3 separate regions of the Homo sapiens genome follow, and all the other regions are linked to region 1. Evidence: fine-mapped expression QTL. A gene starts in region 1. Each other region holds a variant in brackets. All regions are shown on one strand. Distances are between the middles of the regions. Region 1 holds the start of DPH5 (diphthamide biosynthesis 5). Region 2 holds the start of VCAM1 (vascular cell adhesion molecule 1). Region 3 has its middle 61 kb from the start of VCAM1.

The links. PIP is the estimated chance that this variant, and not a neighbour inherited with it, causes the effect.
Region 2: its variant is fine-mapped to the expression of DPH5 in whole blood (INTERVAL, PIP above 0.99).
Region 3: its variant is fine-mapped to the expression of DPH5 in whole blood (INTERVAL, PIP above 0.99).

Annotation. Positions count from the first base shown.
Region 1 is chr1:101,021,884-101,030,073 of GRCh38, forward strand. DPH5 (diphthamide biosynthesis 5) reads right to left here and starts at 3,901. Exons shown (of 8, transcript NM_015958.3): 1 at 3,800-3,901; 2 at 3,426-3,583. The coding sequence starts at 3,560. DPH5-DT (DPH5 divergent transcript) reads left to right here and starts at 3,963. Exons shown (of 5, transcript NR_109849.1): 1 at 3,963-4,178. RefSeq lists enhancers at 3,431-4,630, 3,723-3,832 and a silencer at 5,624-5,683.
Region 2 is chr1:100,719,126-100,727,315 of GRCh38, forward strand. VCAM1 (vascular cell adhesion molecule 1) reads left to right here and starts at 617. Exons shown (of 9, transcript NM_001078.4): 1 at 617-799; 2 at 1,351-1,626; 3 at 3,895-4,215; 4 at 5,499-5,765. The coding sequence starts at 736. The variant T/TA (reference allele first, on the strand shown) is at 4,295.
Region 3 is chr1:100,776,942-100,785,131 of GRCh38, forward strand. No RefSeq gene overlaps it. Among named protein-coding and RNA genes, the nearest start is that of VCAM1, 61 kb to the left of the region's middle. The variant A/C (reference allele first, on the strand shown) is at 3,311.

The sequences.
Region 1 (8,190 bases):
GTTGGCAACCACCCAAATGCAGATCATTCAATACAACTCATCAGTAAGCCAGTACTTTATGTCATGTTGCAATTAAACTCTGTATTTGGGGCTGTCTTAATATCCCAAAGGAGGCGGAACTCTTAACATCTGAGGCTTTTTGCATTTTAAATTTATTTCTAAATTTGGTTCTAAAGGCCAAATAGAACACTGTAGGATGAATGCGGAATATGTACACATGAGCCCTACTTCAGAAACATGATGTAATACAGAATAAATATATTAAACAATAAGTTTAAACAAACATGGTGGTTTAGCTTTTATTAAATTTTCAATGGTTAAACATATGGCAACTCAGCTAGAAAAAAAAGGCAGCACCAATGAGAAACAATAGAAAATTAGCTGTTTACAGAACCAGTGAACATTCCTACATAAATGCAGAAGATACTAATTTAAAACTATATTCCTTAGTTTCTGCTAAAAAGGCAGAGTTGCAGGAGCAGTAACTGAATTCTAAATATGTAGGAAGTTTGCAAACAAACTGCTTTGTGATTTAATTCCCTGCAGCTCAACTCTAGAGAACAAATCCAGTAGAGAGTGAGCTAGTAAGCTAGTAGTCATCTGATAGTGGTTACGGGCTATTATGCAAGATCATGAATCCTTTTCTTTTTTTTCATCTCGTCAGCCAGTACAGAATGAAGGATCATGAATCTTAAAACTGATTTCCTGAGAAGTAATAAGTAATTCAAATGGAGTAAAACTGGATGCATAGATAAATAATACGGTTTCTTACATACTGAGAACTTTGAGTGAGTTATTAAAATTTATAAGGATTGCTGTAGTGCAACGGTATCTGGTACTCAATAATATCTGTCAAACAAATGAGTACATGAACAAATTATTAAGCAGGGCAGGATCCAGCATTGACCATTTTGCTTGAATCCTACCTTCTCTGTAGGTGTTCTGTGAAGTTAAACTTTGTGTAGCTATTATCTATCCTTAAGAATACAGAGACACAGTACAGTGTAGAGGTCAAGAGTGGTAGACCTCGGCCGGGCGCAGTGGCTCTCACCTGTAATCACAGCACTTTGGAGGCCGAGGCAGGTGGATCACCTGAGGTCAGGAGTTCGAGACCAGCCTGGCCAACATGGTGAAATCTCATCCTACTAAAAATACAAAAATTAGCCGGGCGCAATGGCACACGCCTGTAATCCCAGCTACTCAGAAGGCTGTGACAGAAGAATTGCTTGAACCCGAGAGGCAGAGGTTGCAGGGGGCCGAGATCGCACCACTGCATTCCAGCCTAGGCAACATAGCAAGACTCCGTCTCAAAATAAAAAAACATAATAAATAATAATAATAATAAAAAGAGTGGCAGACTTCAACTCAGGACTGCTTTGGTTCATCTCCTGGCTCTATCATTCACTATCTGCATGAACTTAGGCAAGTTTGTTAACTTCTCTATCCCTGCAAAATGAACAGTAATTAGAATAATAATCCTAATCTACATGTAAAGCATTTAAAACAGTGCACAGTAACTGTTCTGTAACTGTTCTATAAATGTCAGTACTTATTACTGTGAAGAAACAGATATTCCAGCACCTTAACAAAGTACACATAATTTACTGTAGGTAAGGCTGGGTCCAGCTTCAGGTCTTGACTCTGTAAGTAGTAACTCCAGAAGTTTTGTCTTTGGAAAAAAATACTTTACAAAATAACAGCAGCCAAAATTAACATTTAGCTAGCACTGAAAATTTACAAAGCACTTTCATATACATCATCTCAATAAAACACTACATAACCCTCCAACTGGTAATTGCCACTTGACAAATGAAGAAACTGAGGTTCAGAGAAGTTTGGAAATGTGAACATTGACAATTTCTATTTCTGAACAGTTTTGTGCCATATACCATAGTTAAGAACCTATGCTAAGAATTATGCTGAACACCTAAAGTAGATGTTTTTTACCCCATTTAAAAAAGACACTAAAGTTAAAGGACTTGTCCAAGGTCACATTAACATGTAACAAAGATAAAACTATAACCAAACTTTCCTCTATGCCATCCCCTGATATCTCATTCTATCAAACTGCTGTTTTGTTATTTGTCTGTCTTTTCTTGAAGGTGTTAAGTTCCTTTTACTTTTCCTTAATCACTGATTAGAGACGCACATTTCCATCATTTCGAGCTTAGATATTTTGGTTCTATCCTAAGAGTGAAAAAATGAGAAAAAAAAATGTTTTTTAAATCAAAGCTGGCCTTAGGCTGGGTGTGGTTGCTTGTGCCTATACAATCCCAGCACTTTAGGAGGCCGAGGTGGGCAGATCACTAGAGTCCAGGAACTTGTGACCAGCCTGGGCAATGTGGCAAAACCCTGTCTCTACAAAAAATACAAAAAATTAGCTGGGCATGATGGCACCCACCTGTAGTCTCAGCTACTCGAGAGGTTGAGGTGGGAGGATACTTGAGCCCAGGAGGCTGAGGCTGCAGTGAGCCATGATCATACCATTGCACCCCAGCCTGGGCAACAGAGCAAGACTTATTTTCTCTCTCTCTCCACATATATGTATATATCAAAGTTGGTCTTTACACACAACTTTTATTTAAATGCATGGCCAATTCAAGTAGCAGTTCTTAATTCCTTCTATAAGATTTTAAAGTAATCTGAGGCCTAAAAATTTTAAGTCTATTTTTTGTTTGGAAGACATGACAATAAATCTGCTCCCTCCTCCCATAACATATGTATTAATCCTTTGATTTACATTCTACTTAGAGTTTGACAATGAACCTGAAGTTGACCCTTCCCCCAAATTTACTGGGCCCTTATGAGGGCCAACTATAAATGTATAATATACTAACAAATACTTTGGTTACTTAGTGTATACTCATGTAAGTGTATACTCATACATTTTTATATATTAAGTCCAGGCTCACTCAATATATACAAGTGTATCAGTATAAGCCTTATTGGGAGATAGTCTATTTAAGATAAGATCTCTCTGGATAGGATACAAAAAGGCAATCGCCATTCCCTATGGACACACTTCAAAGGGGGAAGCTTTCAGCTTGGTTTTTGAATATATATAACCAACTCATTAAGGCTGTGTCAGCTCCTCATTAGCACTCAACTCAGAAAGGGTTTCTTGACTACCTCATGAAATAAGGGGTTTTGATAACTATCCCCCAGGAGTATAAAATAGCTTTCCTATTTACTGGAGAAAGCCACAAAATTAGACTTGTAAAATAGGACAAAGCACCCTTTCATTTTCCAAGTCACTTGGTTGGTGTAAAATTTCCATTCTTCTGCTCCTCAGATCATTAATGAACAAGGGATGCGTTTCAAAGGGTTTAAACAAGCAGACCTGAAAATTCTGTTCAGCTTAGTGTATGAAAATCAGATGTTAGATAGCTTTCTTCCCAGGAGGCTGGGGAACGCTCAGCACCTACCAAGGCTTCCTTCCCTACAGTTAGGACTGAGGTGTAGGCTTCCAGATACACTCGACTGCAGCGTCTAACAACTTCCAGGCCCTTGACTGTGATGTCCTTGGCATCTCCCAGGCCCAACCCGATGAGATAAAGCATTTCAAACTTGAGGAGAAGAGAGACTGCAAGACGAAGTGGACAGAAAAACCGTCAGTAACACCGAGGACATCTAAAATCTAGTGATGAACACGATGACAACCAAAGTAGCACAAGAGAAGAGGCAAGTCACAAGGAGGGGTTTGGGAACCTTATGTCACGCTTAAGAACTGGGATAAGAGGTTTTAAACAACCCTACCAGTTTTGCCTCTTGTTACACAAACCTAGGAGCAGCCAATTACCCGCTGAGAGAATCGTAGGTAGTTCTCTGGCCTTTACAAATTCTTAACTACCACCTTTCCGCAGAAGCAACTGCAAAAGCGCCGGCTCCGTGCAGAGAAAAGGCCCACGCCGCCGGCCTCACCTACGGTGCCGCAAAATGCTGGTGCCTTTACTGCACTTTACGACTAGCGGGAGGGGGCCGGGCTAGCGGGCTACTGGGCTGCGGAGACCAGAGCCCGGCTCCACTGAAGAAACCCGCCGGCTGCTGGGGCAGGGCGGCGAAAGGTCAGTCGGCCGAGAGGAGTCCGTGGAGCCACCGTTTCATAGCCTCAGGGAAAGGATCGGGCGTGCTCACGAGCCCTCTAACCCATGGCTTAAACACCCGCTTCCTAAGCCTGGGTAAGTGCAGTAGCTCTTCGCTCGAGAGGAGCCACGTGGAAGAGAGTCGGGAGGGGCCCTGCGCCCTACTCCTCCTCTCCAGAAACAGGGAGGGCTGGGAAGGATTTTCCTGATTTGTCCCCGGATTTGGCCGAGTGCACAGATTTTAATTCCAGTCTTCTCATCCTCCTGTAGTTCAACTAGGTGTCTTCCTGGTGAAGCGTGAGATTGGCAAACCCAGCAGTGAGTGTGCTTCTGATTTCCCAACAAGGCAATGACTCCTTGGGTTTGTCCCCAAGACCTTATGCCTGGAGTGCCCCAAGGATGTTTCAGTCACCCTCAGTGTCAGGAATCCCAGACCTTCCTGTACCTAAAGAAGTGACCTTTAATAGTGCTCAGGGATTTCAGACCTCTCAAGTGTTTCTGCCGGGGGAATTCTTATAAAGCTGTTGGTTACATGTAATTAGAAATAGGGAAGATTTGTTTTGACTGAAAATGCTCTTCCCAAGGTGACCTCATCCAAGTTAAAAAAGACAGCTGTCATTGCTTTTCTTAGCAGGCAGTGTTGGTTACTCAGAATTTTCCTGTTGCCTCCCCGACAATGCCCAACTCCGCTTCCTTGAACCTTGGCTTTTTTTCATTCCCAGGTTCCATCCACCTTTTTGCACTTCCTATCTATAAACTCTTCGTGGCTGTGTTTTATCCCCTCTCATTACGTTGATCTATTCCTCACACCACATACACACCCCAAAAAACTCAAAATGGATCGTAGATGTAAATGGAAAACCTAAACCTATACCAGAAGAAAACATAGGAGGAAATATTCGTGACCTTATTTAGGCAAATATTTCTTAAACCAAAAGCGTGATGAAAAAAATTGATAAATTGGACTTCAACAAAGTAAAAATTTATGCTCTTCAAAAGACTTGAAGCCACATACTGAAAATATTTACAAAGCATGTATCTGATGAAGGACTTGTATGGAGAATATATAAGGAGCACTCAGAAAGCAATAATAAAACAGTTCGTTGTTTAAAAATGGGCAAAAGATTTGAATAGACACCAAAGAAGATACACAAATAGCAAATAATTATTTTAAAAGATCTTAAACAAACAAAAAAAGATCCTAAACATCATTAGACATTAGGAAAATAAACATTTAAATCACAATGAGCTACCACAACCCACCTATTAGAATGGCTTAAGTAAAACAAACAAAACCTCACAAAAACTGGCTGTTCACTCAGAATTCCTAGTATCGCTAATATTTTGTAGATTCAAATTTCAGCCTCCTATCCAGACTTCCTCCCTCTTGGCTTCATGTTAACGTTCTGCTGGAAATCTTCACCTAGATAACCCGGAAGCATATTCAACACATCCAAGGTTGAATCCATCACCTTCCCTTTCCATTTTGCTTTTCTTTCCATATTATCTACTTGGATGGGTCGGGGGTGGGGGTGGGTGAGGAGAGTATTGTCATCAACAGATTAACCCCAGCCAGACACTTGGGAGTCACCCCCACATCGTCTGTCATGTCTGCCTGTATATCTCAATAGAAACCATACCGTCTATCACCATCTTGATTCTCAGGTCCTCATTTTGTCACTCTTGTAGCTGATAATAATGTCTCCTTCACTCAAGGGGGTCAGAGAGTTATAGTTAACAATCTGAAAATATTACACCCCTTCTAGATCCTTCTGAGGCCAAGAGAAAGTCCAGGTTTGTTAACATACCCCACAAGATCATTCGTGGTGTGGCCACTGCCTACCTTTTTAGCATCATCTCTCTCCACTCCATACCATGAGCTTTCTCGCTTTCTCTCCAGCAATACTGAATTGCTTGTAGTTCTCTGCCCACAACATGCTGCTTTGTTCCTCTACGCTGCTGCCTCATCATAGAATATTGTCTCCCATTCTCTCCTGCCTAGATCACTAATACCCATTCTTTAAGACCAAGTTCAGGAAGCCTTCCCAGAGACCCTCACCCCCCTAAGCTAATTTAGGTTTCTCCTCTTCATTACAGTATTACTCTACATATACTTACTAACCAATTTATGAGATTTTATATTTGTTCATTTGTATTTCTTCTTTACCAAACTATTGATTTAGTTAATTCAGGGACTGCATCTTATTTGTATGCTCATCTTAGGTTTAGCACTATCCCTTGCACATAATAGGTATTAAATAAATGTTTGTTGAATAAATCATTATTATCCACTAGTAGCTGAGCTACGTATTTTTCCATCTTTATTAATACAGAGGGTGGTATGTTTTAAAAAACTACCAAAAAAATCATTAATGGAATATCAAATATAAATATGCCTGTCTCATGCCACTTTAGAAGGTCATTTGTATTGAAAGGCTTGCAACACACAAAACATATAGTTCATATGCATGCTATTGAGTAGGTAAACACATTTTCCAATGTGTTGATCATTTATGTTTTTTGTTTTCAGATTTAAAAAAATAATAATTTCAGGTAGATTCACAGTGCAAGGACACTGCCAAAAAGGATGATTAAGTAATCTGAAGAAGGTGTGGTTTATCTCCTTTCAGGAAATATATCTATATTGAAAATAAAGTTATTCTGGGTAATCAAGGAAGTGAAACATTGCCTGAAATAACAGTAATAATTTGTTTTTAAGCTTCAAAATGTAGCCAGAGGAACTTAGTTTTACCACGGAGAATTCTTAACAAACAAACCTTTCACCTGCCGTTATTTCTCAATAAGAGTGTAAATTTTTTGTACTTTTCTGGAGGTAGACAGATAAAGGGATTATGGTAATCTTTTTTGTTTTTCCTCCTCAGCTCAACAAACATAAGCTGCAAAAATCTTGCCTATTGGATTTTGCAGAATTCTGTGGGATTTGGACATTTTTCCCTTGCCATTTAAAACAGGTTTCAAATGTGATTACATTTTCCCCAACAATTTATTGTGAAAAATTTCAAACATATAGAAAAGTTGAAACAGTGTCACAGTCAACACCCATATAGCCACCTCCAAGGTTCTAAAGTTTTAACATTTTGCTGTTTTTGCTTTATCACTTATTTATCCTTTTACCCAGATGTCAACCCATCTTATTTGTTGATGCATTTCCAGGGAAGTTGCAGCCATCAATACACATATTACATTTTGCTTGAAACATAAACTCCTCACCTAGGTAATAGATTAACAAAACATACCTAGGCATATAGCTGATTAAATGATATCATTGCTTCACCTAATTTAGGCTGGATTTTGAAAATTTTGCTGTAAAACGATTTCAAATTAGTTTTTAACAAATATTATAGTTTTATAATGATAATGAAAGCAGTTAGAGGACAAATTCTTTTATGTCAGCAAATTTGTAGTCTCATGTCTAGCAGAAGAGAGAGTGATGGTTAAAGAGAAAGGTGATTATAGGACAAAAGAAAAAAAGAAAGATTTTTAGCCTTTTTTGGCTTCAAGAATAACATGGATAGATTAGACCTGAAGAGTTTTCTACTTTGTATTCTTGCTTTCAGGTCAGATGATGCCAAGTCATCCCTGAGGGTGAACATTTATGCTTTTATGAAGGATCTTTAAGATGTTTTTATAACCTTTGCCAGTAACTCATTTTTACTGGCAAATTCTTCCTTATATTTGAGACCTACAGTCAGTAGTCATAAAATGTGAGAGAGATGCAGATAGTCATAAGAAATTAATACTGATGGCTTTTCCATTTCATTGTCATAGACACATCATATGCTACTTTTATTCTGAAGTAATAACATAGTTGAGTCACTGCATTACCTTACGGACAAATTATAATTACCTTACATTTAAGAGAAGTCATCCTTCAATTGTCCTGTTTAAGCAGTTTGTGTATTGAAAAGAAGACATCAGGGTGACTGACTAAACTCCATCTGACCTTACTGTGAATGAAGAATATTATTTTACTATGAAGCTGGCCTTTTAACCTACATGTTCCCAGAAATTGCCTTTGTTAGAGGAAATCTTGGTTAATATTTGTAGAGCTCAGACTCTTAATTGATTGAAGTCATTATTTTCTAAC
Region 2 (8,190 bases), 300 kb before region 1:
TTACAGTCCTTTACTTTCTACTCAAGAAAATAGTTTCAAAAAGTTGATGTTTGTTGCTAAAAGAACTATTTTTATGAATAAATATAAAACTAAGAAGTTATGGTGTCCCTTTTTTAAAAAATGACTCATCAAAAGAAATAACTTTTTCCTTTCTCTTGTAAGAGAAAAAAATTAATCTCTTTTAGAATTGCAAACATATTTCCTTGATGGAGAAAATCAATTCACATGGCATAGTCGTTATTTATCCAGTTCAAAAACCAGAGTAGAATTTACTACTCTGTCTCCATTTTTTCTCTCCCCACCCCCTTAACCCACATTGGATTCAGAAAGCTTCATTCTGCAATCAGCATTGTCCTTTATCTTTCCAGTAAAGATAGCCTTTTGGAGTCGAAGATGAGGAAAAGCCTGTATTTTATAGTCTTGGAAGTGTCTTCTTTTGCCAGGACAGAGAGAGGAGCTTCAGCAGTGAGAGCAACTGAAGGGGTTAATAGTGGAACTTGGCTGGGTGTCTGTTAAACTTTTTTCCCTGGCTCTGCCCTGGGTTTCCCCTTGAAGGGATTTCCCTCCGCCTCTGCAACAAGACCCTTTATAAAGCACAGACTTTCTATTTCACTCCGCGGTATCTGCATCGGGCCTCACTGGCTTCAGGAGCTGAATACCCTCCCAGGCACACACAGGTGGGACACAAATAAGGGTTTTGGAACCACTATTTTCTCATCACGACAGCAACTTAAAATGCCTGGGAAGATGGTCGTGATCCTTGGAGCCTCAAATATACTTTGGATAATGTTTGCAGCTTGTAAGTTATTTCCCTTCATCTGTTTCAAATGTTAGCATTCAATTTTAGCCCTGGTTTTGGCTTCAGTCAGTTTTGCGATAGTAGTGAAGTAAAGACACTAGGATTTTAAACAGTAGGAAAAGTTAATTTAGTCTAACTTTTAATATGCAATTGAGTTTTGCTATATACCATTGTACTGTCATAGTTAGAGCTGAAAATTGATGTTTTTGGTATCTTTTTTTCCAAAGGCAATTGAGTAATTTGGATTCTGTCTCTAGTCGGTCTGTCTCTTTAGTTTCCTATACTTGACAATGAGGTCAAACTTAGCAAATAACAAAACAGCTTTGATAAATGGGCATCAAGGTTGGAACTGAGAATTCTCTCTACTGAAGATGATTCCATAAACTTTTTTGGCAGTGACTTCGGTGCTTTTTGGCTACCTTGCAGTTAGTTTGAAGCAGCTTAGGAAAGAGATCAGTCTGATCATATTTTAGACATTATACAGAGAAGAAGGAGGAGAATACTAGACAAACTAGTGGTAAATTTGCTTCTGTCTTTTTTTGCTTTTGCAGCTCAAGCTTTTAAAATCGAGACCACCCCAGAATCTAGATATCTTGCTCAGATTGGTGACTCCGTCTCATTGACTTGCAGCACCACAGGCTGTGAGTCCCCATTTTTCTCTTGGAGAACCCAGATAGATAGTCCACTGAATGGGAAGGTGACGAATGAGGGGACCACATCTACGCTGACAATGAATCCTGTTAGTTTTGGGAACGAACACTCTTACCTGTGCACAGCAACTTGTGAATCTAGGAAATTGGAAAAAGGAATCCAGGTGGAGATCTACTGTGAGTGCTTTAGAAAATCTTTGTTTTTCTCTCAATTTTACTTTAAAATCACTTTTTAAAAATGATATTTTAAAAAAAGTTTTAAAATGGATATTCATGTACAGATTCTTGGCTAAAGAACATACAACATCAGGAAAGCTAGGGACAGCTAAGGCCAACATGAGAGAGAGCAGGAATCCAAATCTTGGCTTCTATTTCTACCTCTGCCACAAACACAGTGACCATGTATAAGACTCAACCTCTCTGGGCTCTGGTTTCCTTAGCTGTAAAATGATCATTTCTAAGTTTCTTTTTGTTTTATTAAAAAATATTTCCATTTGATTACATCCTTACATGTTTACTTGCTTATGTGTCTGATTGATTTATGAATTCCATCCTTCAGGGATTTTCTATTCATTTATTCTTATGCAATTTGATGCTTAAAATTAGTTTAAACATTAAGTAGATCTATAATTAGTAATATGTATTAGTATAAAAGTGTTCTTCTTAGACATAATTGTTAATATCTGGAAACATTTCAATCATTTGACTTTGGTGTTGACACATTTAGGATTTTTTTTTGGTTTTTTTGGTGCCATGAAGCCTTGGTGCTCAACCGCTCAACTTCAAAGATATTTATATAATGAACTAGATTTGCCTCATGAAAGTGAGTGGATGTCCCTAGTTTACCAGCCTGACAAAATGCATCCCACTCCATTCTCCATTCAGCAAACAAAGTTAGCAAGAGGAGTAAAAAACTAACCAGACATAAATCATTTGCCTTTTGTTACTGATGGCCTCTCTTTCTAAAAAACTGAACCCATTTACGGTCATGTCTTCATGAAGACCTCATTTGATTATAATTACTTTGGTTTCGTTTTATTGTACCGGAGCTCAACTTTTCCCAGTAACCTTAATTGATTCTGCAACAAACCGCATGTGTTGCTCAAGCTTCCCAAGAAACTGTGCTTGGCCGGCTGCTTTCAATTATGCTGGTTGTATGTGCATAGTTTATGTCTGTGCAGCCTCCCGAGCTCCTTGAAAGCTTCCCTTATGTAAATACAGGGAAAAGTAGCAAGTTCTTATGTTACCTGACATCGAACTGTGTGGATTAGAGGAACATTTCTTACAGAATATGAGGGACAGAAATTATTGCTGGAAAAATGAAAAATACCATGTTTCTTCACATAGGAAAGAATTTCCAGCTCCTTTGTCTTTTGCCCACTAGTACCAAATAGTTGAAGATTTAAGAAAGAGAAATGAAGACGCTTCTGGTTTTAATTATCTTGCCTGAGGTTTTTCTCCAAGAGTGTCTGTTTCTCATTATGTATAACAGTTCTGTCTCCTTTCCGCATTTGATTGTAATAGTGGTTAGAGTTGAGACCTTTGTATTCTTTTTGCTACACAGTTTTGAATCCACCAATATGTTACTTCATCATAATGCATAATGAAAAAGGTAACTCTTGCAAAGGAGGCAATGGCCACGTGAAGTAGTGTATTTCCTTGTACTAGAAGCTTCAATGGAACACTTGTTGGGATAGTGAGTTAGGCATTTCAGGAGGCAAATATGTGTTCCAGAACATAAAGATTGCACAAATGTATCTTTCTGGTGGATGAATTCCTGTCAGAGGCACCATTTTCAGAAGCTAATTACTTAAAGTTGGTCTTCTCATTTCTTAGAATATCTTGACAATAACTATTCTTTGCAATGACATTCCAAGGCTTACAGTCATTATCTGTAAAATGGAAATATATCTGCCCTGACTATAATAAGAAAATGTGATGTAACATAATGTAAATCTGTAGTAGCAAAACACAATAATGGAAATCCTGAGTTTAAATCCCAGCTTTACCATTTACTAGGTGTGTGACCTTAGACAAGTTATGTAAATGTACTAAGTCCAGGTCTTCTTTTCTGTGAAATGTGATCTCTATCTCCTAGAGTTATTGTGAGGATAAAATGAAATCATTCATGTTAAATCTATAGCACAGTGACAGCCACATGTAAGGTTCAATATAAACATTATTTTTTCTTCTTTCTTTTACTGTAATAACATGCAACTCTTAATATATACAGGATCAGAATTGAATAATGTTGTAAAAAATGTTTGCTTCCAATTCTTGTGCCTTGAACTCACCCCAAATCATGAAAGGCTATTCAAACAGTTCTGTCGTATTAAGACTGTATTAACAAAAACGCTAGACTTGATTTGTATTGTGTTAAAGTGGTAAGAGACCTTATATCACATTAGCAAAAAGCCCATCCATGTATTTGTTTGGCCTTTTCAGCTTTTCCTAAGGATCCAGAGATTCATTTGAGTGGCCCTCTGGAGGCTGGGAAGCCGATCACAGTCAAGTGTTCAGTTGCTGATGTATACCCATTTGACAGGCTGGAGATAGACTTACTGAAAGGAGATCATCTCATGAAGAGTCAGGAATTTCTGGAGGATGCAGACAGGAAGTCCCTGGAAACCAAGAGTTTGGAAGTAACCTTTACTCCTGTCATTGAGGATATTGGAAAAGTTCTTGTTTGCCGAGCTAAATTACACATTGATGAAATGGATTCTGTGCCCACAGTAAGGCAGGCTGTAAAAGAATTGCAAGTCTACAGTAAGTACTTGTGCGATGTGTTCCAGTCTTTGTGGGAATCCCACCTTGGTTGTGTATAGCAATAAACTTAGCAGAAAAG[T/TA]AAAAAAAAAAAAAACTTGTATATAGTTTGTATTCCATTTGTATTCATTCACAACATAATGTTTGTCAATAGTATAATTCAGTGAAAAGAACACTGGATTTGGACTGAGAAGGCTTGAGCTTAATTTCTGGCTCTATTAACTGTGTGAGTTTGGGTTACTTAATTTCTCTATTTCCCAGTGTATAAAAGGGGAATAGTAATACCACCTGATTGGGTAGTGGGAAATAGGCTCAAATGATAAAACATTTTAATATTGTTTTGTAAACTCTTATAGTATGCCTTGAACTATTAGTTGCACAGGTACAGAAACTTGACAAGGTGATCACTTATTCTGTGTGTGTATGTGTGTGTGTGTATGCATATGCACATACATACATAGGTGCACTGGACAGGGGAAAAATGACGGGGTTTGATTGCCTCCAATCTCCCTGATACTGCCAGGGGATTTGTGGGAGTCTTGTAGTCCCAGCGTTGTGTAGGAGTGGCCTCACTGTGCTCTGTTCTGGACTAAAATGCTATGTTCTGCACTGGGTACCACATTTAAAGGGAGTATTGCCAACTACGGCATGTTTAGCTGAAAGAGAATGAGCTGGGAAGGCTTTTAACAATATTTTGAGAAGAATAGTCAAGATAGAGGATATTTTTCTGAAGAGAAAACAAAACCTGGCTGGAAAAGACATCTAATTAAGCATTTGAAAGACAGTTATATGAAAGAGTGATTTACCTTATTCTGTAACAGCACAGGGCTGAATTATGGCCAATATGTTTAAAATAGTATAGAGAGAAGATTTCAGCTCAATAGGGAGAAATGTGCTAATATGTAGAGCTGTCCAAAAATCAAATTGACTCTTTTGGAAAGCAGTGGGTTGATTCTCTCAGTAAATGTTGAAGCTGACTTGAATGGGCACTTGGCAAGAATGCTTAAATGGGACTCTTACCCTTAAGTGGGAGGTTAAGCCACATGGTTTTTCTTAATTTCTGAGTATCTACAACCATCTGAAAAATATGAAACATCAACTAAACTTGATCAGTTTAGTCAGAAACTGGATAGACTATTTTGAATGATTCAGCAGTTCTTTATACTAATTTGGCAGAGTAATTTCATCAAATTGGTGGAAGCACATAAATACTAAGAGAAATACATTACCTCTGTTGCACTGGGATGATGCTTAGCAATTGCTAATATTATTTTTTGCCCTTTCAGTATCACCCAAGAATACAGTTATTTCTGTGAATCCATCCACAAAGCTGCAAGAAGGTGGCTCTGTGACCATGACCTGTTCCAGCGAGGGTCTACCAGCTCCAGAGATTTTCTGGAGTAAGAAATTAGATAATGGGAATCTACAGCACCTTTCTGGAAATGCAACTCTCACCTTAATTGCTATGAGGATGGAAGATTCTGGAATTTATGTGTGTGAAGGAGTTAATTTGATTGGGAAAAACAGAAAAGAGGTGGAATTAATTGTTCAAGGTGAGTAGAATGTGAAAAAGGAATGATAAAGGTGCTGTCAGTGGGATTTGAGCAATAGTCAACACAGCTTCAATGCTGAAATTGCTTCCCTTAGTTTCACTGATGACCTATCTGATTGCCATATCCTTTAGCACAAATATATGTTTATCTTACTAGTACTCTGTGGAAGTCTTCCCTCCCAGAGTTTCCATGGCTCTGCTTTTCTGATTCTTTTTCATCTCATATCACTTTTTCTCTGCTTCATTCCCTCACTTTCTCTCTTCCTCCTTCCCCTTGGATATTGGTATTTTCAAGTTTACACCCCTGGGTCCTCTTCTGTTCTCACACTAGATTCCCAGGAATTGGACTACAATATGTTGATTACTCCCAAATTCATGTTCCAATTCCATGCTGTTAAATCCTGTCAGTTCTACCTCAAAATGCTCCCTGGAATATGACCTCTTCTTCACCCCACTTGCCATTGCCTTAGTTTATCATCTCTCACTTGGGCTCCTGCAAGATATTCTTACATAACAGCATTCGCTAAACACCAGATAGGTTTCTGGCACTTTCCATATGCCATCCTCAAGAAATAACTAAAAAGTAAGTATTTTGTATTCATTTTACAGATGAGAGAGTGGAATCTCCCAGAGATTAATAATGACACCACCTATTGATTGTACACCTAATATTTCCCAGGAATTCTGTATTCTGCTTTATATATTTTATCTCATTAATCTTTACCACAACACTATTAAAAACCCAGGCTCAGCATAGTTCATACTTTTCCTGGGGCTAAATAGCTCTTTAGTTGCATTTACTATGATTTTGATGCAGGTTCATTTTAATGAAAACCCCTTTGCCTTTTTAATTTTATAGCTAATTGTCTTTATTATTTCTTTTTTAAAATATTTTTAATTGATAAATCATGATTGTATACATTTATAGATTACAATGTGATGTTTGGTATAGGTATACAATGTAGAATGATTAAGTCAAGTCAACAAATCCATTGCCTCACTTGCTCTTTTGTGGTGATACATTTGAAATTCACTTTCTTAGCTATTTTTAAATATACAATATATTATCATTAACTATAGTCATCATGATGTACAATAGATCTAAACAACTTACTCTCCTGTCTAACTGAACCTTTGTATCCATTGACCAACATCTCCTTGTTCCCTTCCACTCCTCGCCCCAGCCTCTGGTAACCACCATTCTACTCTCTACTTCTATGACTTTAGAAGTAGATCCCACATATAAGTGAGATCAGGAGGTACTGGCTTCTCTGTGCCTGGCTTGTTTCACTTAGCATAGTGTCCTCTGGGTTCATCCCTTTTGTTGCAAATGACAGAATTTCCTCTTTTGTTTTTTAAGGCTGAATAATATTTCACATATTTTATGGCTAATTATCTTTAAATAGTCTCCCTGCTAAGATTCTGTCCCTAATATAATCAATCTTATGCACTGCTCCCAGGGTTTATTACCTTAAACAAAAAGGTGCTCATTTTCTATAACTTCCATCACATTTCTTAAAACTGTCACACAGAACTCTTTATGATCTGGTCAGAAACTACCTTTGCAGATCTGTTGATGACTCAGTGCCTCTGCTTACGCTGTTCCTTCTGCCTGAAATGGCCTTTCTCCTTCCTTCATCTGGCAAAATCTTAGCCATTCTCCAATATGAAGCTCATGTCAGCCTCCCAGTTCCAGACTGTGTCAGACCAAACTACATATTCTTTCTTTCGTGTACACTCAACACTCCTTATAGTCATGTATGCTATTCTGTTCAGTTCAACAAATATTAAGAGCCCTTGTCCAAGAATCCAAGAATTGTACTTGGTACTGGGGGTACAGATATGAAAAAGATATGACAACTGCCCTAGGGGAGCATACAAACTAGGAAGGAAGGACAGGCATATAAATAGGTAACGCAAATATTCCTTAGTAAGAGCCAAAATAATATATCTTTTTAAATGTGTCTTTCCACTAAACTGTAAATTCCTGCTCCGGGCACAATGGCTCAAGCCTATAATCCCAGCACTTTGGGAGGCTTAGGTGGAAGGATTGCTTGAGGCCAGGAGTACAAGACCAGCCTCGGCAATATAGTGAGACCTCCTGTTTCTATTTAATTTTTAAAAAATCTGTAAACTCCTTAAAATCAGGAATTCTGTGTGTGTGTGTGTGTGTGTGTGTGTGTGTGTGTGAATGTTTGGATTCTTAGCACAGTACCTAACACATAATAAATGTTCAGTAAATATTTGCTGAATTAATGAATAGATTATAAACATGGGCAGCATAGTCTTTTGTTTGTTTTAGGAAATGAGATCTTGCTATGTTGCCCACACTGAAGTCAAACTCCTAGGCTCAAGTGATCCTCCCACCCTAGCTGCCTGAGTAGCTGGGATTATAGGCACGTGCCACTACACCCAGCTCAACACAA
Region 3 (8,190 bases), 240 kb before region 1:
TTTTAAACAACTTTTTTACTAATCCAACATCTGGTCATTTCTATTGATTGATATTTCTTTTTTTCTGATGTTTTTTGTATCCCTATTTATTTTGATCATTTATTGGACATTGTGAATAATACAATGTAAAGAGCCAAAATTCTTTTATGTTCCTCTGAAGGGTGCTTGGTTTTGTTCTGGTGGATAGTTAATTACCTTAACTCATGGAAGATTGATTTTGGGGGGCAAATTTATTTTGGTTTTGCCTTTGATCTTAGAGTGAGTTCCTTTATCCCAGCATGTAGTCTTATTCCTAAGGCATGGTTTTTCTGGAGTTTCAGTTGAGAGCTCAAAATTATTACCAAGGTCTTCTAATTTGTGGGACTTAAACTTCAAATGCTGTTTGGAGGACAACAATTAAAACCTTTTGTTCAGCTGTTTCAGCCTTCAAGCTATTATCGGAGTATTGCCCATGCATGTGCAGTCAGAATTTAACCAATTGCTTGAGTTGATTTTATAAGCAAATTTTGAGGCTGCCCCCTCTATGAGTCCCCTTCTTTGGAGCTTCTCCCCTCAAATCTATTTTTTCTGGCAGTCTCAAACTCCTGCTGTGACTCCTCAGCCTAATAAGACTACAGCTCTCTGCTTGCATTCTGGCTACTCCACATTTTAAGGCCTAGGGGATGACCCAAAGAAGAAAGCTATAGAAATGTGCGTATCACCCAGCATGGTTGCCTTCTTTTAAGGGTCAAATCAACTTTTGCCTGCTTTTGCTTGCTCTGCAATATCTTCATTCAGTTTTGTTTTTCTTCAAATTTTGTCCAGAGTGTAGAAGTGTTGTCTGCACAAGGGTTGATCTTACACAGGCTACTCCAACATTACTGTAACCAGAACTCCATCAGAAGAGTTTGTGCTTTTATTACTGTTTTTGATATTAATGAAGAGCCTTCTTCTCAAAGAGGTGGAGGTCACTGATGAATATATTAAACCAAGATGTTTGTTTTTAAAGCACCTACCTCCTTTGTTAGTTAAAAATTGAGATTTTAGAATAAAACAAGCCTAGATTGAAATCTTTGATTTTTTTTTTCCCTCTTACTAACTTAGGACAAATTTCTTAACATGTTCCAGCTTAGTTGTCTTATTATAATGAAAATGATAACATTACTTCTTCAAGAAGTAGTTGAGGCCGTTTTTGTAAATCATTTAACCAATGTATCATCAATCCTTTTCATCAAGAATTCAAGTGCTCCATGTATATTTATTGCGGCACTATTCACAATAGCAAAGACTTGGAACCAACCCAAATGTCCATCAATGATAGACTGGATTAAGAAAATGTGGCACATATACACCATGGAATACTATGCAGCCACAAAAAATGATGAGTTCATGTCCATTGTAGAGACATGGATGAAGCTGGAAACTATCATTCTCAGCAACTACCGCAAGGACAAAAAACCAAACACCACGTGTTCTCACTCATAGGTGGGAATTGAACAATGAAAACACATGGACACAGGAAGGTGAACGTGACACACTGGGGCCTGTCATGGGGTGGGGGGAGGGGGGACAGATAGCATTAGGAGATATACCTAATGTAAATGATGAGTTAGTGGGTGCAGCACACCAACATGGCACATGTATACATATGTAACAAACCTGCACGTTGTGCACATGTACCCTAGAACTTAAAGTATAATAATAATAAAATAAAAAAAGAATTCAAGTTCTCAAATTTCCATATTTCTGCCCCATAAAATATGGAACAAATAACTTTTCTCTGAATAAATATTAATATATTTACAGATTTTTAATTTTTAAAAACTTTAACTTTAGTATTGCTTGTTTTTACATATGGAGAATCTTTACTGTCTATTGTTATCATCCCTACCACCAGCATGCACACATGCTCTAATATCTTTCAATATTAAAGTATATATGTATAAAATCACCCTAGTGGCACTTCCCCAAACAGTTACAACTCCATTTCTCTACTTTCCTTCACAGTGAGCTGCCACAGAAAGAATTGTCTATTTTGTCTACTTTTGCTATCTTCACTTCCTCAATTCCCATCATCTTTTAACCTACTCTAGTCATGCTTTTTCCCTCACCTTCTGCTTACTGCTGTCCTTGGGGACAACAGTGACCTGAAGGTTGCCAAAAACAATGGTCAATTCTCCTTTTACTGACCATTCACCACCCCTTTCTCCTGGAAATACTCTCTTCACTTAGATTTCCAAATACTACTATCTACCTGCTTTCCTCTTGCTTCACTGGAGACCCACTCCTGATGGCTCTGTATCACCTATCTAACTTCTAATTACTGAAGTGGTCCAGCACTCAGTCCTCAGCCAGCTTCTCTAGATACACTTACGTCCTAAGCAATCTCAATTAGATCCACGGATTTATATCCCATATATACTCTAATGACCCCCAACTTTTCTGACCACCTCTTTTCCTTTGCCCTCAAGCCTCACCTCTCTTAGTAATCCACATCTAGGTAAATAGCACTATGAATGCTGGAAATCATTATTGACTTTTCTTCATATCTCATATGATAAATTCATTTCATTAGCACATCCTGTTGGCTCTATTCTCAATTTATATCCCAAGTCTTCATCACCACCTCCATCTCTATCACTCTTTTTCAAGCCACCATTATTTCACATCTGAACAACTGAAATAATCACTTTAATGTCTCTGTTTCCATTCTTGTTCCCATAAAAAACTTTTCATAGCGCCCATAAATAAGTGTAAATCAGTGTAATCATCCATTTTCACACTGCTGATAAAGACACACCTGAGACTGGGAAATTTACAAAAGAAAGAGATTTAATGGACTTACAATTACATGTGGCTATGGAGGCCTCACAATCTTTGCAGAAGGTGAAAGGCATGTCTCACATGGTGGCAGACAAGAGAAGAGAGCTTGTGTAGGGAGACTTCCATTTTTAAAACCATCAGATCTCGTGAGACTTATTCACTATCACGAGAACAGCATGGGAAAACCTGCCCCCATGATTCAATTACCTCCCACTGGGTCCCTTCCACAACACATGGGAATTCAAGATGAGATTTGGGTTGGGACACAGCCAAACCATATCATTCCATCCCTGGCCCCTCTCAAATCTCATGTTCTCACATTTCAAAACCAATCATCCTTCCCAACAGTCCCCCAATGTCTTAACTCATTTCAGCATTAACTCAAAAGTCCACACTCCAAAGTCTCATCTGAGACAAGGCAAAACCCTTCTGCCTATGAGCCCATAAAATCAAAAGCATGTTAGTTACTTCCTAGATACAAATGAAGGTACGGGCATTGGGTAAATAC[A/C]GATGTTCCAAATAGGAGAAATTGGCCAAAACAATGGGGCTACAGGCCCCATGCAAGTCCGAAATCCAGTGGGGCAGTCAAATCTTAAAGCTCCAAAATTATCTCCTTTGACTCCATGTCTTACGTCCAGGTCATGCTGATGCATGAGGTGGGCTCCCATGGCCTTGGACAGCTCTGCCCCTCTGGCTTTCCAGGGTATAGCCCCCATCCTGGCTGCTTTCAGAGGCTGGCATTAAGTGTCTGTAGCTTTTCCAGGCACATGGTGTAAGCTGTTGGTAGATCTACCATTCCGGGGTCTGGAGGATGGTGGCCCTCCTCTCACAGCTCCACTAAGTGATGCCCCAATAGGGACTCTGTATGGGGGCTCCAACCCTACATTTCCCTTCTGTACTGCCCTAGCAGAAGTTCTCCTATGAGGGCCCTGTCCCTGCAGCAAACTTCTGCCTGGGCATCCAGGTTTTTCCCTACATCCTGTGAAATCTAGGTGGAGGTTCCCAAATCTAAATTTTTGATGTCTGTGCACCTGCAGGCTCAACACCACACGGAAGCTGCCAAGGCTTGGGGCAGGCACCCTTTGAAGCCACAGCCTGAGCTCTATGTTGGCTCCTTTCAGCCATGGCTGGAGTGGCTGGGATGCAGAGCACAAAGTCCCTAGGCTAAACACAGAATGAGGACTCTGGGCCTGGCCTATGAAACCATATTTTCCTCCTAGGACTCCCAGCCTGTGATGGGAGGGGCTTCCATGAAGTCCTGTGACATGCCCTGGAGACATTTTCCCCATTGTCATGGTGAGGCTCCTGGTTACTTATGCAAATTTCTGCAGCTGGCTTGAATTTCTCCTCAGAAAATGGGATTTTCCTTTCTATTGCATTGCCAGGCTGCAAATTTTCTGAACTTTTATGATGTTTCCCTTTTAAAACTGAATACCTTTAACAGTACACAAGTCACCTCTTGAATGCTTTGCTGCTTAGAAATTTCTTCTACGAGATACCTTAAATCATCTCTGTCAAGTTCAAAGTTCCACAAATCTCTAGGGCAGGGGCAAAATGCTGCCAGTCTCTTTGCTAAAACATAACAAGAGTCACCCTTGTTCCAGTTCCCAACAAGTTCCTCATCTCCATCTGAGACCACTTCAGTCTGGACTTTATTGTCCATATCACTATCAGAATTTTGGGCAAAGCCATTCAACAAGTCTCTAGGAAGTTCCAAACTTTTTCACATTTTCATGTCTTCTGCTGAGCCCTCCAAACTGTTCTAACACCTGCCTCTTTCCCAGTTCCAGTCACTTCCACATTTTTGGGTATCTATAGCAGCACTCCACTCTCCTGGTACCAATTTACTGTATTAGTCCATTTTCATGCTGCTGATAAAGACATACCTGAGACTGGGAAATTTACAAAAGAAAGAGGTTTAATGGACTTACAGTTCCACGTAGCTCGGGAGGCCTCACAGTCATGGCAGAAAGTGAAAAGCACATCTCACATGGTGGCAGGCAAGAGAAGAGAGCTTGTGCGGGGAAACTCTCATTTTTAAAACCATCAGATCTCATGAGACCCATTCACTATCACGAGAACAGCACAGGAAAGACCTGCCCTCATGATTCAATTACCTCCCACTGAGTCCCTCCCACAACATGTGGGAATTCAAGATGAGATTTGGGTTGGGATACAGCCAAACCATATCAGTCAGATCACATCTTTCTCCCTTTCAAAGCCTTCCAATTATTTCCCAATGCATTTTGAGTAAAATCCAAATTGTACATTTAAGGTCCCAAATGATCTAGCTCCCGCTTGACTCTCCCACCTCTTTCATTCTTTCCCTGATTACTCTACTTCAGCCATTCTTGCTCTGTTTAAAATGTGCCAAGCTTGTTTCCACCTTGGATCTTTGCACTTACTCTTCCCTCTCCTTGGAACATCCTTCCTTTGGGTCATATCACGGTTTGTTTCTTCCCTGCCTTCTAAATTCTGCTTAAATTGAACCTCCTTGTGTGAGGCCTTTCTGATGCACTCCATCCTAAGCAGGTTCTCACACAACCATATATTGTTACCCTCATCCTTTATCCTGCCTTGTTTTTCTTCATAGCACATATTACTTCCTGAATTTACACTATGTATTTCTTATTTACTTATTATATGCTCCCCCACTAGAACATCAGTGCCTTGAGAACAGGAGTGCTGTCTTATGTTATTGCTGCATCTCCAGGCCCTAGGATAAAAGCTCAATAAAGATTTGTTGATTGTGAGATGATATTTAGATATAGTTTTCTCATTGTTTGGTCTAATTACCTACTAATTAACTAAAATGAGAAAATATCTCTACTTTTGCAAAACAGAGTTGTCAAAAGACAAAATTTCAAAAAATTGAGTTTAAAGATCTAATTGGCTTTTATTAGTGATTTCATGAATTGGCCAGCATTCCATCTATAAAAATAGACAGATGCTCTGCTGGGCATAACAGAACAATCAGTTTTTATAAGGTAGCTTGAACAGGAACAAGGAAAGAGCATAATACAAAAAAAGTGAAGTGGTTAACATCGAGTTAGTTAGGTTTCTTTCCTAATAAGGGTTAAAGCAGAGGGGACTTCCTTACCATGCTGGCTCAGGTTGACTGGGCCCTTTTTGACCAGCTACTGGAAATCTCCTGTTTTAGGAAAAACTGGTCAGTTTAGGGATTTTCCTGCTTCACTTTGATTATGTGTCACTTAGCCTGAGTGACTGCATTTTGGTTCAGTCTGTTGGGGTCTAGTGGAGGAACTGAGTCCAAAACAATGACCTCCTATAAATTTTATTCAGCAAAGTTTTGTTGTGTTTTATATTCTCAACTGCTAAACGGTATTAGAAAACATCTTGAAGAGCAAACCTATTTAGCCTAAGAAATAAACATATGATTTTTTTTTGTTTCCTGTAAGGAACGCTAATGTCAAGTACAACTTCCATGAACTTCTTGTTTGGCTCTTTGCCCTTCAAATGAAAGGATATAGGGAATTTTCTACTTTTTCGGTTCACATTGTACTTCTTGTTTTCATAAATGCTGAATTCATTCTGCAATCTGCCCATGAAGCATTAATATGTTAACTGCCTAATCAGTGGATTTGCCACAAGACTTTCAGGTTTAATTAAATAGGACTTATCCAGTCTACTCAATGTGAAAGCTTCACTTAAGAATCTGTAATCAACTTATCTAAATCTGAATTATTATAGGGCCCCTTCTTATATTTAACTTCATGTACATAGGTTTGGATTTAGCTTATCATTTAAAAATGATCTGAGGATGTGAATTGCTTTTTTATTGATGTACTTGATAATATACATATCAGTGTTAATTAACATTAGAAAGGGAAGCACTAGATTATAGCTAACATTAGAAAGACAAGCACACTATTGTATCATAGTGAGATACTTTTCTAAATATAAGTTCCTAATTCATTGTAACTTTGATGGTATTAATATATTTTTCTGAGTAAATGATAACAAAATATGGATGGATACTCTTTCTCCATGCAGGTAATTGAACTTAGAAACCCTTACTCCAAGATGTCTCAATGGGCATACAGGTGAACCTTATGTGGTTTATTCCAAGAGAGAATAATATTTCAAATCATAGTTTCTATGTGTTGAAAACACACTGGCTTTAGAGTTAGAAAGCTCTTAGATGAGATTCTAATTTCACCTTTTTCTCTGTGTCATTGATATATTGTCTGTATCTAACATATTAACTCTGTTCACAGTTTTAAAATATAAATGTTTGTTTTTCTGATGATAAAAGTAATTGTGATGGTTAGCACTGAGTGTCAACTTGATTGGATTGAAAGATACAAAGTATTGATCCTGGATGTGTCTGTGAGGGTGTTGCCAAAGGAGATTAACATTTGAGTCTGGGGGCTGGGAAAGGCAGACCCACCCTTAATCTGGGTTGGCACAATCCACTCAGCTGGCAGCTCGGCTAGAATATAAGCAGGCAGAAAAATGTGAAAAGAGAGACTGGCCTAGCCTCCCAGCCTACATCTTTCTCCCATGCTGGATGCTTCCTGCCCTTGAACATCAGACTCCATGTTCTTTGGTTTTGGAACTTGGACTGGCTCTCCTTGATCCTCAACCTGCAGAGGGCCTACTGTGGGACCTTGTGATCATGTGAGTTAATACTTAATGATACTTTACTTAATAATGCTTAATAAACTCCCACATATATATCCATAACTAATGGAATATATATATATATGTGTGTGTGTGTATATATATATATTCCATTAGTTCTGTCCCTCTAAAGAACCCTGACTAATACAGTAATACGTGGCCATTATAGAAAAATTTGGAAAAAACAACAAAGAGAGAAAATTGTATTGAGTCTAAAACCCCCAAGTAACTAGAATTAGCCACAGTTGCTGCTTATTTATCAATCCATACATTCTTATGTTGTTAAAATATGCTAATATCTTAAATTTTCATTATGCATTATATCATATTTCCTGACCTATGTTGGTAATAAGAAGTTCCATAAACATTTTTAGGACTACATAATTCTTCATGGCATATATATGCCATAATATAACTGCATTATCCCCTAATATTTGACAGTTTGGCTCTAAATTTTAGATAGTCTAAATGATATTGAAGTAAGTAATTTTATGAATAGATTTTATCAACAGTTTTGATTATTTATTTAGAAGATACTAATAAATTAAAATACTGAAAGAAAGCATCTTGTTACATACTGCTAAACTACATTTCAGACCAGTCCTACTAAATTATACTTCTAACAAGATTGGATGAGAGGGCTCATCTCAACACATTGTCATGAGGACTATCACAAAAAAAGTTGTGCAAATGTGCTGGATAGCAGCGATGTCATGTTACTTTATTCTGATATATATTTATAAA